2 separate regions of the Homo sapiens genome follow, and region 2 is linked to region 1. The links come from fine-mapping of genetic effects on gene expression. A gene starts in region 1. The other region holds a variant in brackets. All regions are shown on one strand. Distances are between the middles of the regions.

Region 1 (8,326 bases):
AGTGTTTTCTTGAAGGACCCTTGCCATAATCACTTTTTTTTTTAATTCCCCCAATCATTTATCCTTTAAGTTACCAACCATGCAATTACACTCTTAAGTTTTTTTTAACATGTACAATGAAATTATTATTGACTACAGTCACTCTGTTGTGCTATCAAATAGTAGGTCTTATTCTATTTTTTTTGTACCCATTAACCATCCCCACCATCCACCTACCTGCCCACTACCCTTCCCAGCCTCTGGTAACCATCCTTCTACTCTCTATGTCCATGAGGTCAATTGTTTTGATTTTTAACTCCCACAAATAAGTGAGAACATGCAATGATTGTCTTTCTGTGCCTGGCTTATTTCACCTAACATAATGATCTCCAGTTCCATTCATGTTGTTGCAAATGACAGGATCTCATCCTTTTTTATGGGTGAATGGTGCTCCATTGTGTATATGTACCACATTTGCTTTATCCATTCATCTGTGTTTTTCTTTTTTCTTTTTTTTTTAAACAGTTTTCTCTCTTGTTTCCCAGGCTAGGATGCAGTGGCATGATCTTGGCTCACCATTCATCTGTTTTTTAAAATTTTATTTATTTATTTACAGATGAGGTCTCACTATATTGCCCAGGCTGGTCTTGAACTCCCAGGCTCAAGCAATTCTCCTACCTCAGCCTCCCAGTGATGACCAATGATGCTGAGCACGTTTTCTTATACCTGTTTGGCATTTGTGTGTCTTATTTTGAGAAGCGTCTATTCAAATCTTCTGCCCTCTTTTTGATCAGATTATTAGATTTTTTTTCTCATAATCACTTTTTGAAGCAAGATTTCAAGTTTGAATCCTGCTGGGGAGGATAGAGTGAATTTATATTAACTGTATTAATTTATGTATATTTCATATATTTGTATATATTTCAGCTCTAGCAGTGAGAATGGCATCCTGGCAGGCCGTTTTGGGAGCTAAACATATAGGAGAAGTGGGCTGGGTTGCTAGAGGGTGAATTACCAGACATGTGGTGTCAGGGCCTGCCACACCCACTATCCATCCTAAACAAGGCAGTCTTAGGCCAACCCCATGATCCTTCTTCAGTGTTGGCACCCCAAGCCCTCAGAGCATCAGGCAGTAGCAACGGGAACAAAAGTGCTGCCTCTGCAGAGAGAAGCCAAGAAGTTGGTCTGGGGCTAAGACCATGGTGAAATGATGCACAGGTGACGAGAAAGCAGAAACTACACAGTAGAAAGGGGACATGCAAAGTAGGGGGAATGGGCAGTGCTGACGAAGTGAGAGGAGCAGAGAGCGGACAGAGCGGCAGAGACAGATCAGGAGACAGGCTCTGGAGCTGCCTTGGCCTCTGACACTGGTCTAGTAAGTTCCAGTCCATGTGCAAGACTACAGGAAACCTAGGAGAAACTTCATTTTTTTGTTTTTTGAGATGGAGTCTCACTCTGTCACCCGGGCTGGAGTGCAGTGGCACGATCTCGGCTCACTGCAACCTCCGTCTCCCAGGTTCAAGTGATTCTCCTGCCTCAGCCTCCCGAGTAGCTGGGATTACAGGTGCCAGCCACCACACCCAGCTAATTTTTGTGTTTTTAGTAGAGATGGGGTTTCACCATGTTGGCCAGACTGGTCTCGAACTCTTGACCTCAGGTGGTCCACCTGCCTTGGCCTCCCAAAGTGCTGGGATTACAGGTGTTGAGCCACCGCATCCAGCCGGAAACTTCATTTTTTTGAGATAGGGTCTCGCTTGTCACCCAGGCTGGAGTGTAGTGTGATCGTAGCTCACTGTGTCCTTGATCTCTTAGGGTCAAGCAATCCTCCCGCCTCAGCCTCCTAAGTAGCTGGGACTACAGGCATGCACCATGATGCCTGGCTAATATTTTTTGTTGTTGTTTATTTATTTTTGTAGAGATGGGGGGTCTCACTGTGTTGCCCAGGCTGGTCTTGAACTCCTGGGCTCAAGTGATGCTCCAGCCTCAGCCTCCCAAATAGTTAGGATTACAGGCATGAGCCACTGTGCCTGGCCAAAACCTTGCTTTTCTGACAGATCTGATTCACCCTAGCTACAGATTCTATAGCACCTGTTTATTTTTATGCTTCTCATAGTCTGGCATCACTGGCTGTTGATAGGTCTCTGTCATTAGATGATAACTCCTTGAGGCTTGTTTTATCCATCTCAATAACCGTAGCACTCGGCCCTGTAAGGGGGAACTTTGTAGGTGTCCACTGATGTTTGAATAAATATTTGCATTTATCACAATTCTTGTCCCAAGCCTTGACGCGGAAGCTCTGGAATAAGCAGCAGCACAGATTTGAGACTTAGTCCATGTACCAGCCACATGCAAAGAGGTAAGCTGGGTCAAAGAGACCCAGAAAGGGAGTCTGAAATGGAAATCGTGGGGTTGATAAGGCAGCAGTGGAAACAGAGGCTTTACACAAGTGTGGGAAATGGACTAGGAGGACACTCTGTTATTTGATGTGTCCTCGCTTGTAACATGGAGGTGATTATGACCTACCTCATAGGTGGGGGAAGGAGACCCAAAGGTGATGGACCCGAAAGTGTTTTGTGAAGGGTAAAATAAACACAGGTGTGCGAGATCAATAGAGTTGATTGATAAGTCTCATGCATTATTGCCAATCTACTTGTGTGACCCTGGATCCCGACCTTAGCATCCCCTTTCATGTATTCAGGACAGTGATCATTGCTTTGCTGGACTGCTGTGAGGAAATGAGATGTAAGCAGAAAATATGCTTAGGCCAGCCCCTCCTACCTCACGAGGAACACCTGGACAGTTTCCTAAAAATACAGATTCCTGGCACCCTAGTCCCGAAATCATAATTCTCTGGGAATGGAGCCTAGGAATCTGAATTTAAAATAAGCACCCCTCCAGGTGATTAGAATGGTTCAAGAAGGCTTTAAAAAACACTGAGGCCGGGCGTGGTGGCTCACACCTGTAATCCTAACCCTTTGGGAAGCTGAGGCAGGAGGATCGCTTTAGCCCAGGAGTTTGAGAGCCGCAGTGAACTATGGTGGTGCCACTGTACTCCTGTCTGGGTGACAGAGTGAGATCCTGTCCCCCCACCCCCTGCAAAAAACAAAAAACAAAAAAAGAAACAGAAAAACAAAAAACATCGAGGCTGGGCGCGGTGGCTCACGCCTATAATCCCAGCACTTTGGGAGGCCCAGGTAGGTGGCTCACGAGGTCAGGAGATCGAGACCATCCTGGCTAACATGGTGAAACCCCATCTCTACTAAAAAATACAAAAATTAGCCGGGCATGGTGGCATGCGCCTGTAGTCCCAGCTACTCCAGAGGTTGAGGCAGGAGAATCGCTTGAACCCGGGAGGCGGAGGTTGCAGTGAGCCGAGATCATGCCACTGCACTCCAGTCTGGGCGCCAGAGCGAGACTTGGTCTCAAAAAAATTTTTTTTAAAAAGGAACATCAAAAGGATCTATTAAGGTGTCATCAGGTGTGTGTGTATGTGTGCACGTGTGTGTTTAGGAGAGTAGGATGGGAAGACGGTACTATCATCTGTGACCACAAGGTGGCAGCAGGGATAGACAAGGAGAAACAAGTCTCCCACCCAGAGGGGCTGGGCATGGGCAAACCTGGCGATCAGGTTGTGGAAGGAGGTGGGTCCTTTACATGATCTCCTTTGCTAGATGGAATCTCTGTACCGCAGGGCTAATCCCCTGTGACCACCTGTCTCTTTATCAGGTCTTTATGGAGACTGTTTTTTGCCACTCTGTCGGCAAGAAAGGCATTGTGAGCTTGGGTGGTGATAGTGTGTGTTCCACATGGGTGAGAATGGGAGGCAAGGGGTGTGTCACATCCCCAGATGTGTTCATCAGTCAGGGTCACCTACACAGGGCAGCTTACTCAAAGGACAACAGTGCCTGCTGAAAGCAGTGTCTCCCACCCCCTGCTACTAGAATTGTGGTTGCAGGTGCCTCTCAGGAGACGCCCACATCTGTGGCTGGGGAGTTGGCCAAATACCAGGCAAAGGACGCTGGGCTGGGGCGGGGCAGGGGCAGGAAACACAGGATGGGGCAGCTGCCTCTGGAAGCAGCCAAAATGTCCCCAGCTGCAGCAGGGGTGAGCAGAGGATTAGGTGACAGTCCCCTAACAGCCCGGAACTAACACCCTCCTCCCCCTCACACAGGCACCCTGGCATGCCCCCTCCAAGCCTGCCAGAGCTCAGAATAACCCTGAGAACCACGCAGCAGGATGGCAAGGGCTCCGCTTGGGGTCCTGCTCCTCTTGGGGCTTCTCGGTACGGACAGGGGCTAGAGGGGCAATTGGACACACACAGATACTGACATGAAGGGACTGGGAAGACAAAGACAGAGACCAAGATGGAGACTTAGACACAGTATTTCGTTCCCAGGCACAGCATAATTGGTTTAGGAGACAGATACTGATAGTACACAGCCTCAGAGGCCTGTGAGGACCCAGGGGAGGCAGAGGGGAGAGAGGTGCTCCAGCCTCTTCATTGCCAATGACCCTTCCTTCTTGACCCCATCGCAGGCAGGGGTGTGGGGAAGAACGAGGAACTGCGTCTTTATCACCATCTCTTCAACAACTATGACCCAGGAAGCCGGCCAGTGCGGGAGCCTGAGGATACTGTCACCATCAGCCTCAAGGTCACCCTGACGAATCTCATCTCACTGGTAAGCTACCCCCACCCTCATCTTAAGCCAAAAATCCCACTTCTGGCCCCAACCGCTGAGCTCTGTCCTAAAGCTCACTTCTGGCCCTGAAATCTCACTTCAATCATCCCCATCTCCCATCTGCAGAATGAAAAAGAGGAGACTCTCACCACTAGCGTCTGGATTGGAATCGTGAGTCAAATCTGGGGAATGGTGTGAGGTCTTGTCCAGGGCACCCCTTTTCCCCCAAACCCCTCCCAGGCAGCGCCAGGTGGGAGATGCAGGGCACGCGGCCTTCCATCCCCCACCCCTTAGGATTGGCAGGATTACCGACTCAACTACAGCAAGGACGACTTTGGGGGTATAGAAACCCTGCGAGTCCCTTCAGAACTCGTGTGGCTGCCAGAGATTGTGCTGGAAAACAAGTGAGAACCGGGCCAGACGCCAGGCTGGAGGGAAGCCGGCCTGGGGTGCGGGCTGGACTTGGTTGGGGAAGGGGGTACTCTGAGAGGGTGCAGACCTGTGCAAAAAGCTCGGTTTCCCCGAGCCCACAGTATTGATGGCCAGTTCGGAGTGGCCTACGACGCCAACGTGCTCGTCTACGAGGGCGGCTCCGTGACGTGGCTGCCTCCGGCCATCTACCGCAGCGTCTGCGCAGTGGAGGTCACCTACTTCCCCTTCGATTGGCAGAACTGTTCGCTTATTTTCCGGTGGGAAGAGCTACTCCGAGGCCCGGACGATTATTGTTGGGGGGGGGCCTTATGGGGCGGGGCCAACCGGGAAGCACCGCCCTCGGGGCGGGGCTTCGCGCTGGAGGCGGAGCCAGGCGTAGGCACTGGGTGGGACGCTCCAGCGCGGCCGGAGGTACAGATGGGAACAGAGGCGTGCGGGCTGGGCTTGGGTGAAGGGGTGGGCTTGGGATCGCGGCCCCGCTAGATCCCAGCTTCCAGGGCTGGGCCTGAGGCCGGGGCCCAGGTCAGAGCTTCTGGGGTGGGCTCCCGGCCCTGGCTCCGCAGCTCTCAGACGTACAATGCCGAAGAGGTGGAGTTCACTTTTGCCGTAGACAACGACGGCAAGACCATCAACAAGATCGACATCGACACAGAGGCCTATACTGGTGAAGCCCCTGCCTGCTCAGAAAAACCCGCTTCTAGACGGGGTCCAGAGAGGGGACTTCCACGGTGGGCTTGCCCCGGACCAACGACACTGGAGGATGACTTCCACAACTGGGTTTAGCTTACCCCTGTCCTGAAATCATTCTCGATTGTTACTCTAGTCCTGCCTTCTGGCTTTCCATACCCTCAACGAGAATGCCCTTTTCTGTCCGTAATTGCCCCCATCCTGACGGCCCATGACCCTGGTGCAGACAGCCGCAGCCTCCTCTTCAGCCCGCTGTCAGCTCGGCGGGCGCCCCGCTCTGACAGCCAGCTGACCGTGCCCCCGTCCCGCAGAGAACGGCGAGTGGGCCATCGACTTCTGCCCGGGGGTGATCCGCCGCCACCACGGTGGCGCCACCGACGGCCCAGGGGAGACTGACGTCATCTACTCGCTCATCATCCGCCGGAAGCCGCTCTTCTACGTCATTAACATCATCGTGCCCTGTGTGCTCATCTCGGGCCTGGTGCTGCTCGCCTACTTCCTGCCGGCGCAGGGTAAGCAGTGGCCCCGAACCTACCCCCAAACCCGGGCTCGCTCCCGGGAGGCGGGGCCCGCTCTCACTGGCTCTCCCTCCAGCCGGCGGCCAGAAATGCACGGTCTCCATCAACGTCCTGCTCGCCCAGACCGTCTTCTTGTTCCTCATTGCCCAGAAAATCCCAGAGACTTCTCTGAGCGTGCCGCTCCTGGGCAGGTGAAGCCGGAGCCCCCGCGGGGGTGTGGCCAGTGTGAAGGGTGGGGGCGTGGCCAAAACCCAGAGACCCCGGGAAAAGCTCTGGCTGTCTCGCCCCGCCCTGGGCTTTATTCGGACGCTGGGTGGGGCTGGTACGGGGATGGAGTCCCTGGTCCGCCGTCCTCCTCACTGCTGCTGGACGTCACCTGGAGGTCTCCCGAGTAGCTCTCTTGGGGGACAGTCCGGCTCAGTGCCTCCCTAGCCCCGCCGCCTCTGGCCCCTAACTCACCCCGTGTCCTGAGCTCACCGGTTCTCCGGGGATTCCGAGGCCTAGCTGCTGTTGCGACTGTCGCAGGAATGAGGCAGACCCCTGCAGACCCCGTCCACACAGGCATAGCCATGCTCCCTGGACTAGGAGCCGGGCGCTGGCGCCCACCGCAGCCCCAGCTTGCCGAACCCCCTGCCCTGCGGCTTGGGCTACCCGGCTCAGCGCTGCACCCGGATCCCTGCCGTCTGGGGCTGGGCCCGCGCTGCCGTCTAGTCGCCGCGCCTCCTGCTGCAGCCACAGGGCTGAGATCTGCATTGGGGGCACAGGGGTTAGCGGGGAGGCAGAGGTCCTTGTTCCCGCTACCCGATCGCCGCGTATCCTAAGCCCCCCAGTACCCCACCTCTAACAAGGTGGTGCCGAAGCTCACGAGGCTGGCTGTGGCTTCTCTCAACACCAGCCCCAGGGTGGGCTTCGGGGCAGGCAGCATCCCCTGCATCTTCGGTTCGGGTGGCTCCAGGGACTTCAGCTCTCTGAACCTCTGCTCCAGATATTCATGGGCTGCGGCCACGGAGAGTTCCAGGGAAGACAGAAGCGGGGGCTGGAGGGCCACCTGGAGAAGGAGCAGAGCAGTAGAGTAGCAGGGCAGGGGTCACAGGGGCGAACAGGAGACCTACCCAGAAGGTCTCGAGGTGCAGCCCTTGGCGGGCGTAGCCTCACCTCGGTGGAGCTGTGGAAGTGGTAGATCCACATCAGGGTGTCCAGGGAGCTGGGGGTCCCCTTCATGGCCGCCACAAGTGGTAGGACAGGAGAAGGGCTGGGGGACGCGTCTGTCGTCGTGTAGGGGGCGCAGCTGGAGGGCGTAACCAGCCCGTACCAGGAGAAGCCGTGTTTGTGAGGTCAGCGCGCGGCGCCTTCGGTAGCTGGGAGGAGGAACGGTGATGTCATGCCTTCCGGGCTCCTCAGGTTCCTTATTTTCGTCATGGTGGTCGCCACGCTCATTGTCATGAATTGCGTCATCGTGCTCAACGTGTCCCAGCGGACGCCCACCACCCACGCCATGTCCCCGCGGCTGCGCCACGTAAGCGCGGAGGGGGCGGTGCAGCCCGGGTCGGGGTGGGGCTTCGTACTAACCTCGTCCCCTAAGCCCCGCCCCTGCCCCAGGTTCTCCTGGAGCTGCTGCCGCGCCTCCTGGGCTCCCCGCCGCCGCCCGAGGCCCCCCGGGCCGCCTCGCCCCCAAGGCGGGCGTCGTCGGTGGGCTTATTGCTCCGCGCGGAGGAGCTGATACTGAAAAAGCCACGGAGCGAGCTCGTGTTTGAGGGGCAGAGGCACCGGCAGGGGACCTGGACGGGTGAGCACAGTGGCCCTGGCCCGGGGGGCCGCGCGGGGTGCCTGCCAGGGGGGAGGCTCCTAAGGCCCACCCCGGTGTTTTCCCCGCCAGCTGCCTTCTGCCAGAGCCTGGGCGCCGCCGCCCCCGAGGTCCGCTGCTGTGTGGATGCCGTGAACTTCGTGGCCGAGAGCACGAGAGATCAGGAGGCCACCGGCGAGGTGGGACAGGAGCCAGAGGCGGGTGGAGCGAGGCAGAGGCCCACCACT
Region 2 (8,326 bases), 49 kb after region 1:
CTCTATTACAAATACAAAAATTAGCTGGGCATGGTAGTGCATGCCTGTAATCCCAGCTACTCAGGAGGGTAAGGCATGAGAATCACTTGAGACTGGGAGGCGGAGGTTGCAGTGAGCCGAGACTGCACCACTGCACTCCAGCCTGGGCAACAGAGCAAGACCTCGTCTCAAAAAAAAAAAAAAATTAAATTTAAATTAAAAAAAAATAAACAGGGAACCAACAAGAGCTGGCAGAACAGAATAAAGTCTCAAGCCAAATAACTCCCTTGCCTTGGAAGAACAAGGCTGCCAGCGTCTTGGAGCCTCTGTTTATCGGGTACCAGTTCAAAGGACAGTGAGCCTGAGCTGGCCTGGGAGGCCCTCCCCCCTCCCAGATGAAAACAATAGGCCTGTTTTCCTGAGCTCTTCCTGTAATCCAGAAGGCCCACACAGAGAGGAAGAGGGGGGCAAAGGCAGTGGCTATACCCAGTGGGGGAGGGGATATTTAGCCTCCCATAAATTCATCAGCTCCCTTAAAGACACCCCAAAACACCAACAATCTAAGTGTTAAAATAGTGACTGCTATGCAAATGGAGCTTTAAAACCTATCCCTTAGCCCCAGTACCACCAGATTACTAACCCTAAACCCCATCTGTAGGAGATATTCTGAAGCCACCACAGGGGAAGGGATAAGGGCCTGAGAGACAAAGGACAGATGGGGTCTCCCCAACAATTTAAGTTAAGTTCCACAAGGATACAGTACTGGCAGAGATTTGGAAGTAGGGGCAAGTATTCTGACAGAAGGGTGGTGTCTTAGGCACCCTTCAATTAGGAGTAGCTAAAGGCTGTGTGTGTGTCTGTGTGTGTGCATAAGAAAAGAAATAGGAGGGTGTGTGTGTGGTAAGAAAGAGCATCTTGGCTGGGCGCGGTGGCTCACCCCTATAATCGCAGCACTTTGGGATGCCAAGGCTGGCGGATTGCCTGAGCTCAGGAGTTTGAGACCATACGGGGCAACATGGTGAAACCCCATCTCTACTAAAAATACAAAAAATTAGCTGGGCATGGTGGTGCGTGCCTATAGTTCCAGCTACTCGGGAGGCTGAGGCATGAGAATGGCTTGAGCCCTGGAGGCAGAGGTTGAAGTGAGCTGAGATCGCACCATTGCATTCCAGCTTGGGCTACAGAGTGACACTCCATCTCAAAAAAAAAAAAAAAAAAAAAAAAAACCAGCATCTTTGCTGCCACTAGTCCACTGTCTTTGCACTCACTCTCTGCCATGCCCATCCTTGTCCCCCTCCCCACTCACAGACATGTCCAACAACAGCCCCGAGTATGCTTTGGTTTTCACCATCTCGGGTGCTATGGCCACCATGGTCTCCAGTGGCCTGGGTGCTGCCTGTGGCATGGCCAAGAATGGCACCGGCATCATGGCCATGTCTGTCATGTGGCCAGAGCTGATCCACATGAAGTCCATCATCCCAGTGGTCATGGCTGGTATCATCACCATCTATGGCCTAGTGGCGGCTGTCCCCCCTGCCAACTCCCTGAATGATGACAACAGTCTCTATAGCAGTTTCCTCCAGCTGGGCGCTGGCCTGAGTGGCCTGGCAGCCGGCTTTGCCATCGTCATCGTGGGGGACACTGGCAAGTGTGGCACTGCCCAGCAGCCCCGACTATTTGTAGGCATGATACTGATCCTCATCTTTGCCAAGGTGCTCATTCTCTCCACAAAGCAGCCCCTCTCAAAACCCACCAGTCACAGAATACGATGTAAAGACCACCCCTCCTCATTCCGGAACAAACAGCCTGACACGCATGTGCTGGGCAGCTGGCCCTCAGTAGTTGATCTTCTAAGTGTACAGTGTCCTCGTGTTCATCGTCTGTTGGCCAGGCCTTGCCCCCTCCCGCCCCATGCTGTGGACATCTGAACCTACTCATCACCCATCCAGGTCCCCGACCAGTGAGGACTCAGGCCCCTGGATGCCCCACCCATCTCCCTTGAGTACTCTATGTATAAGGATGAATTAGAGTTGTCATTTTCTCTTCATTAGATATTTATAAAGATTTGGCCTGTCCATACCCCTGTGGAGCAGCCCTCATCTCCCACCTATCTGTCACGTCATGGAGGTTCCCATTGCGGAGGCTCCTTGGATGGAACCACCCTCTCCAGCCCGCGCTGCCAGGCCCTGTGCGGCAGCTGTGTCTGATAAAGTTCTCAGATGTCGGGGGAGGGAAAGAAAAAAAAAAGAGAGTGTGAGTACGTAAGAGAGAGAAAACGGGAGTGGGTGTGTGAGCTGGAGACAGGGAAGTGGCAGGAAAAGTCTGATAAGATCACCTCCTTCCTACCCAAGCAGAGATACTGGACACAGCCCCTCAAGGACCCAGAGGGTAAGTAGAGCGCGAGATGCTTGCCTTTCTCAATGGGAGGTGGCCTCCCAGGCCTGAAGAAGTCTCCATTTACCCCAGAGCCAACTAGGAAGCAGGTAGACAGCATCATCCCCACTTATACCCCAAGGTGCTTGGGGTGAATGGCAGGCCCAAAGCCAAAGCATGAGACAGATTAAATGTTCCTATGGCGAGAGAAGGAGAAGGGGTCACCAGCATCTCTCCACTGAGCAAATGAAAGGAAGAGAGAAGGCAGGCTGATACCCTCATCAATTTCCTACTGTCCATGATATACCACCATCAACTGGACTTTTTTTTTTTTTTTGAGATAGAGTCTCGCTTTTGTCACCCAGGCTGGAGTGCAGTGGCATGATCTCAGCTCACTGCAACTTCCATCTCCCAGGTTCAAGTGATTCTCCCGCCTCAGCCTCCTGAGTAGCTGGGATTACAGGTGCCTGCTACCACATCCAGCTGATTTTTTTTGTATTTTTAGTAGAGATGGGGTTTCTTTCTTTTTTTTTTTTTTTTTTGAGACGGAGTCTTGCTCTGTCGCCCAGGCTGGAGTGCAGTGGCGCGATCTCGGCTCACTGCAACCTCCGCCTCCCAGGTTCACGCCATTCTCCTGCCTCAGCCTCCCGAGTAGCTGGGACTACAGGCACCTGCCACCACACTCGGCTAATTTTTTGTATGTTTAGTAGATATGGGGTTTCACTGCTGTCTCAACCTTCTGACCTCATGATCCGCCCGCCTCGGCCTCCCAAAGTGCTGGGATTACAGGCATGAGCCACTGTGCCCGGCCTTTTTTTTTTTTTTTGAGATGGAGTCTCGCTCTGTCGCCCAGGCTGGAGTGCAATGCCACAATCTCAGCTCACTGCAAGCTCCACCTCCGAGGTTCACGCCATTCTCCTGCCTCAGCCTCCTGAGTAGCTGGGACTACAGGCGCCCGCCACCACGCCCAGCTAATTTTTTGTATTTTTAGTAGAGACGGGGTTTCACCTTGTTAGCCAGGATGGTCTTGATCTCCTGACCTCGTGATCCACCTGCCTCAGCCTCCCAAAGTGCTGGGATTACAGGTGTGAGCCACCATGCCTGGCCTTTTTTTTTTTTTTAAGACAGGAGTGTGGTGGCACAATCTCAGCTCACTGCAACCTCCCCTTCTAGGTTCAAGCAATTCTCCTGCCTCAGCTTCCTAAGTATAGTAATAGCTGGGACTATAGGCGCCCACCACCACGCCCGGCTAATCTTTTGTATTTTTAGTAGAGATGGGGTTTCACCATGTTGGCCAGGCTGGTCTCGAATTGCTGACCTCAAGTGATCTGCCCACCTGGGCCTCCCAAAGTGCTGGGACTATAGGCGGGAGCCACCGCGCCCAGCCTGGACTCTTTTTAATGAAGCCTTCAAAAAAACTCCTTTTCTCAGC[G/T]CTTCTTACTCTCTGAAACAGACTCTCCACTCTGCTAACCCTGCCTCTCACACTGTGGAACTCAACCGGATCTTTTTATTCTGAATCCACAACGTGAAGTACTTGTCCTCTGTCTATCGATGGCTACCTGTGTTTTGAAGTGTTTTTATGGGAATGAAGCACTGGAGGGGAGGAAATCAGGCCAGTTCTAGAAGTAGAAGGAAGGCGAAGAAACCAGGAAAAATATTTATGTGATGGGAGGAAAGGCAGTTTATAAATCACTCATGGATCTCTATGCCAGAGGGATGTGTGAGACACACGCATGCACACACACACTGACTTGCAGGTACATGCAGAGGCAGAAACAAGTCAGGACATGACACATACATGAATACACATACCATTCTCATCAGAAACCAGTCAGAGCAGAGGGGCCCTGCCTGGAGCAAGGAGACTGGAATTTATTCCCCTCCTCCTCTCAAAGGGTAATTTTGCTGCCTCCATGTCTAGGTTCCCCACAGATCTGGCTGCCTCAGACAGGGGCCCTGGTCTGGTGGCTGGACTCAGCCTGGAGGTCTTCACAGATGGAGGCCTATAAGAGGTGGCAGCTGACACCTGGAGGGAGCTGGATGAAAGCAGGCAGTGCAGAGTAGAGAAAGCCAGGTGGTGGGGGAGGGAGTGAGGGAGAAGAGGGGACCAGATTCAAGCAGCCTTGCGCTGGTTCTAAAATGGCCACAGCAAGGCAACGGACAGATGGTCCCTTTCTGATGCTGAGCCGGGGAAGTGGGGAAAGGGAAAAGGAAAAAATAAACACCATCACAGTCAGAAATTTAAAAATAAACTGAAAAACCTAAAAAATAAACCGTTTGCTTCTGAGGTTCCGTCTGCCTCCAGAACCTTCTAAGGGAAAATACAGAACTGCAGGCCTGGAAGGGCAGCCCCAGCCTCGGGTGTGAAGATAGTTGGAGGTCATTCTAGCCATCTCCTATCCCCAGCTGGAGTATCTTGCAAAGTCTTTCAGGCAGCGGAGGTGGTATCTCAGCCTTTACCTCCCCAGCACTTCTTCTCAAGTCTCACTGTAGGTAAGCGAGGCCATGGCTTTTCAAATGTCAGAGCCGTTTGATTCTGTCTCTCTCCCAAGAATCAGTTTCCGTCCGAGATCAGCAGAATCAAGTTCATCCTCTCACAGTTGCTGCCTCTCCTACCACCACCCAACTGCCCAGACTTTACAGTTCACAGGGTGCTTTCACAGTCATGACTGCATCTGCACTTAAACCTGCAGGGAAGCTTGGCAGGAATGACTAGCTCAGAGCACAGATGAGAAAGCCAGGGCTCTAACAAGTGAAATGTTTGTCAAGGTGAAGCAAGCGCTCAAACTTGCATAGCCTTCCGATGGCACACAGCAACAACCACACTCCCCCACCAACCACACTCTTCCCACCAACCACACTCCCCCCACCAACCACACTCCCCCTCAACCACACTCCACCAACCACACTCCCCCAACCACACTCTTCCCACCAACCACACTCCCCCCAACCACACTCTTCCCACCAACCACACTCCCCCACCAACCACACTCTTCCCACCAACCACACTCCCCCACCAACCACTCTACCTACCAACCACATTCCCCCCACCAACCACACTCTTCCCACCAACCACACTCCCTCACCAACCACACTCCCCCCACCAACCACACTCCCCCCACCAACCACACTCCCCCTCAACCACACTCCCCCACCAACCACACTCCCCCACCAACCACACTCCCCCCACCACACTCCCCCAACCACACTTCCCCCACCAACCACACTCCCCCCATCAACCACACTCCCCCCACCAACCACACTCCCCCTCAACCACACTCTCCCCACCAACCACACTCCCCCCACCAACCACACTCCCCCATCAATCACACTCCTCCACCAACCACACTCCCCACCAACCACACTCCCCCTCAACCACACTCCCCCCAACAACCACACTCCCCCACCAACCACACTCCCCCACAAATCACACTCCCCCACCAACCACACTCCCCCACCAACCACACTCCCCCACCAACCACACTCCCCCACAAACCACACTCCCCCACCAAACACACTCCACCCATCAACCACACTCCCCCACAAATCACACCCCCCCCACCCAGTAGATTCTGTCTCCCTCTGTGGGCCAAACAGGTTCTTCCTCAGGCTCACATATGACTGCTGTACAGCTGAATATCCCAGCTATGGTTTACCTGGAGCCTTGCCAATTCTCATGCTGGTGCCTTTTGGTTCTTGCTGGTGTGGGGATGAGGCAGAGGGGCAGGAACACTGCACTAACTAGTGGCTTTCTCTCTGTTCCTTCTCACTCCTGGGTCTCCACATGCTGTTCATCACTCTCCTCCTCTTTACCTGGATGCCTCGTGCCTGTGCCTCCCGACCTCCACTGAGACAATGTCACCTCCAGGAAGTGCCCCTCACAATCCTCTCCTCCCACAATACCCTGTACTGACTCTTTCGTGACACCAATTACATTTTTGTGATTGATTCTCTTATCTGTCTCCTCTGCTAGACTAAGTTCTTGGAGGTCAGGGCTGCCCTCAATACCTGTCTGTGGAATGAATGAATACAGAAATAAAAGAAAAACCTCCCTCCTTCCTTAATGCAGCAGTTATCTAGAAAAACCTCCCTCCTTCCTTAATGCAGCAGTTTCTCACACTAGTTTTGGATTATCTCCATCCTTCCAAAATAATCCTTGAATATTCACTTAAGTGGAATGCATTAGAGCAGCTACTAAAAGTGAATCTCCTTTTTGTCATATGAATCAGCACCTCATAATTTATATGCTTGGTAAATGTTTTACCAGAGAGTGGACTTTCTTAGTTTTTTTTTTTTTTTTTTTTTTTTTTTTGAGACAGAGTCTCACTCTGTTGCCCAGGCTGGAGTGCAGTGGGGTGATCTCAGCTCACCGCATCCTCTGCCTCCCCGATTCAAGTGATTCTCCTGTCCCAGCCTCCCAAGTAGTTGGGATTACAGGCACAAGCCACCACACCCGGCTAATTTTTGTATTTTTAGTAGAGACAGGGTTTACCTTGTTGGTCAGGCTGGTCTTGAACTCCTGACCTCAGGTGATCCACCCACCTTGGCCTCCTAAAGTGCTGGGATTACAGGCGTGAGCCACCACGCACGGCCCGAGAGTGGACTTTCTTAAGGCAGGGAATTCCTACGTGGTTGGCAAAAACCACACGGGAACACTAATAATGGCCCAAAGAGGTCGGGAGACAATGGGGCCAGGAGAGATGAAGGGAAGGCTTCTCGGAGGAGAAAAGAGCTCAGCGCAGTGGAAAGGAGAAGGAAACGGGCAGAGGCTGGGCTGGGTGAGAAGGGCCAAAGAAGTCCCCATCGCAGGGGGGCAGACAGCGAGCAGGAAGGCTCTAAGATGGAAGAGGGTAACTCAGGGGTAGGCTTTCTTAGCTGAGGACAACAGCAAGACAGGAGTGTGGTGAAATGGAATGATGGTGCTTAGTGTTTACTGCACTAAGAATCAGAAGGCCTGGGCACTGGTTCTGACTCTTCTGTATAATTTAGGCAAATCCGCAAATCACTTAACCTCTTGGAGGTTCTTTTCCTTATCTACCCAGGCCCATTTCACAAGAATTCACCGATGTGGAAACATTTTAAAATCCATAAAATGCTACAAATTTGCATAGAGTCATTATGAAGAAACTGGCTCCCACAAAGCAAGGCAAAACTGTGGCAAAAAGTGATTTACCAAAACTGTTGGCGTTACTGGGATTTAGGGTGAAGTGTGGCAGTTCAGGAGAGAAGAAACAAGATAAAAAGTAGAATTGAGAGGAAGGCAGGTGAGACAGAAGGGAGGAAAACCAGATCTGTGGCCTCGGAGGCAGGCTGACAGGGGCAGGGAGGAGGGCCAGTCCCTGGGAAGCAGACACCAGAGAGAGCAAGGAAGGGCACAGCATGGCAGTGGGAGGGGGCAGAAAGGAGATGCCAGGCCCGTTCAGGCTGGCAGATACCAAGCTAACGGAGGAGGACAACACTAGTAATGAGGGGTTGGATAATAATAAGGCTTCTTGCTGCTGGTTTTCAATTGCAGCACAAACAGATCATTATATCTTATTGCCAGCCTCCTTCTGTGGGAGTCAGGTGTCCACAAACCCAAGGAAGAGACTAGAGAAGCTTCATGACCAAGAAAACTTGTGACCTGTACCCATATGATTTCGAATTCCAGAAGACCAATGACAGGCCATGAGAGAAAACTTAGGAAGGAAAGCTCTGAAGGACAAGGGGACAGGAAAAGAGATCCTGGAAGGAGAGGGAGAGGGTGTGAAGCTGAGTCAGCTGTAGGAAGAACAGGTAGAGGGCGGGGGGGGCCAGCAGGAAGGGGAGGAAGGACTGTCTGAATCACACTCTGAGAAAGAACAGGGTTACTCTCCAAAGGGTGGAGACCAGATATTCTCTGGCCCCACCAAGGACCAACCCAGGATAAATTACAGCTGAAGAGACGCAGGTGAGACAGAAGGGGAACTTCCTGACCAGCAGGATGGAGCAAACA

The links. PIP is the estimated chance that this variant, and not a neighbour inherited with it, causes the effect.
Region 2: its variant is the best candidate, but not a certain one, in a credible set for the expression of CHRNE in whole blood (TOPMed, PIP 0.71).

Annotation. Positions count from the first base shown.
Region 1 is chr17:4,898,953-4,907,278 of GRCh38, reverse strand. CHRNE (cholinergic receptor nicotinic epsilon subunit) reads left to right here and starts at 4,181. Exons shown (of 12, transcript NM_000080.4): 1 at 4,181-4,261; 2 at 4,516-4,658; 3 at 4,785-4,829; 4 at 4,953-5,062; 5 at 5,192-5,347; 6 at 5,654-5,754; 7 at 6,089-6,289; 8 at 6,372-6,486; 9 at 7,697-7,811; 10 at 7,895-8,081; 11 at 8,172-8,278. The coding sequence starts at 4,216. C17orf107 (chromosome 17 open reading frame 107) reads right to left here and starts at 7,743. Exons shown (of 3, transcript NM_001145536.2): 1 at 7,451-7,743; 2 at 7,134-7,343; 3 at 4,345-7,042. The coding sequence starts at 7,516. The coding sequence ends at 6,746. RefSeq lists silencers at 3,351-3,645, 7,867-7,976, 7,997-8,146 and enhancers at 3,777-3,996, 4,186-4,827, 4,828-5,469, 7,357-7,666.
Region 2 is chr17:4,850,338-4,858,663 of GRCh38, reverse strand. All of the region lies in intron 1 of MINK1 (misshapen like kinase 1), which reads right to left. It also overlaps the pseudogene ATP6V0CP1. Among named protein-coding and RNA genes, the nearest start is that of MINK1, 21 kb to the right of the region's middle. RefSeq lists enhancers at 3,867-4,818, 8,285-8,326. The variant G/T (reference allele first, on the strand shown) is at 3,785.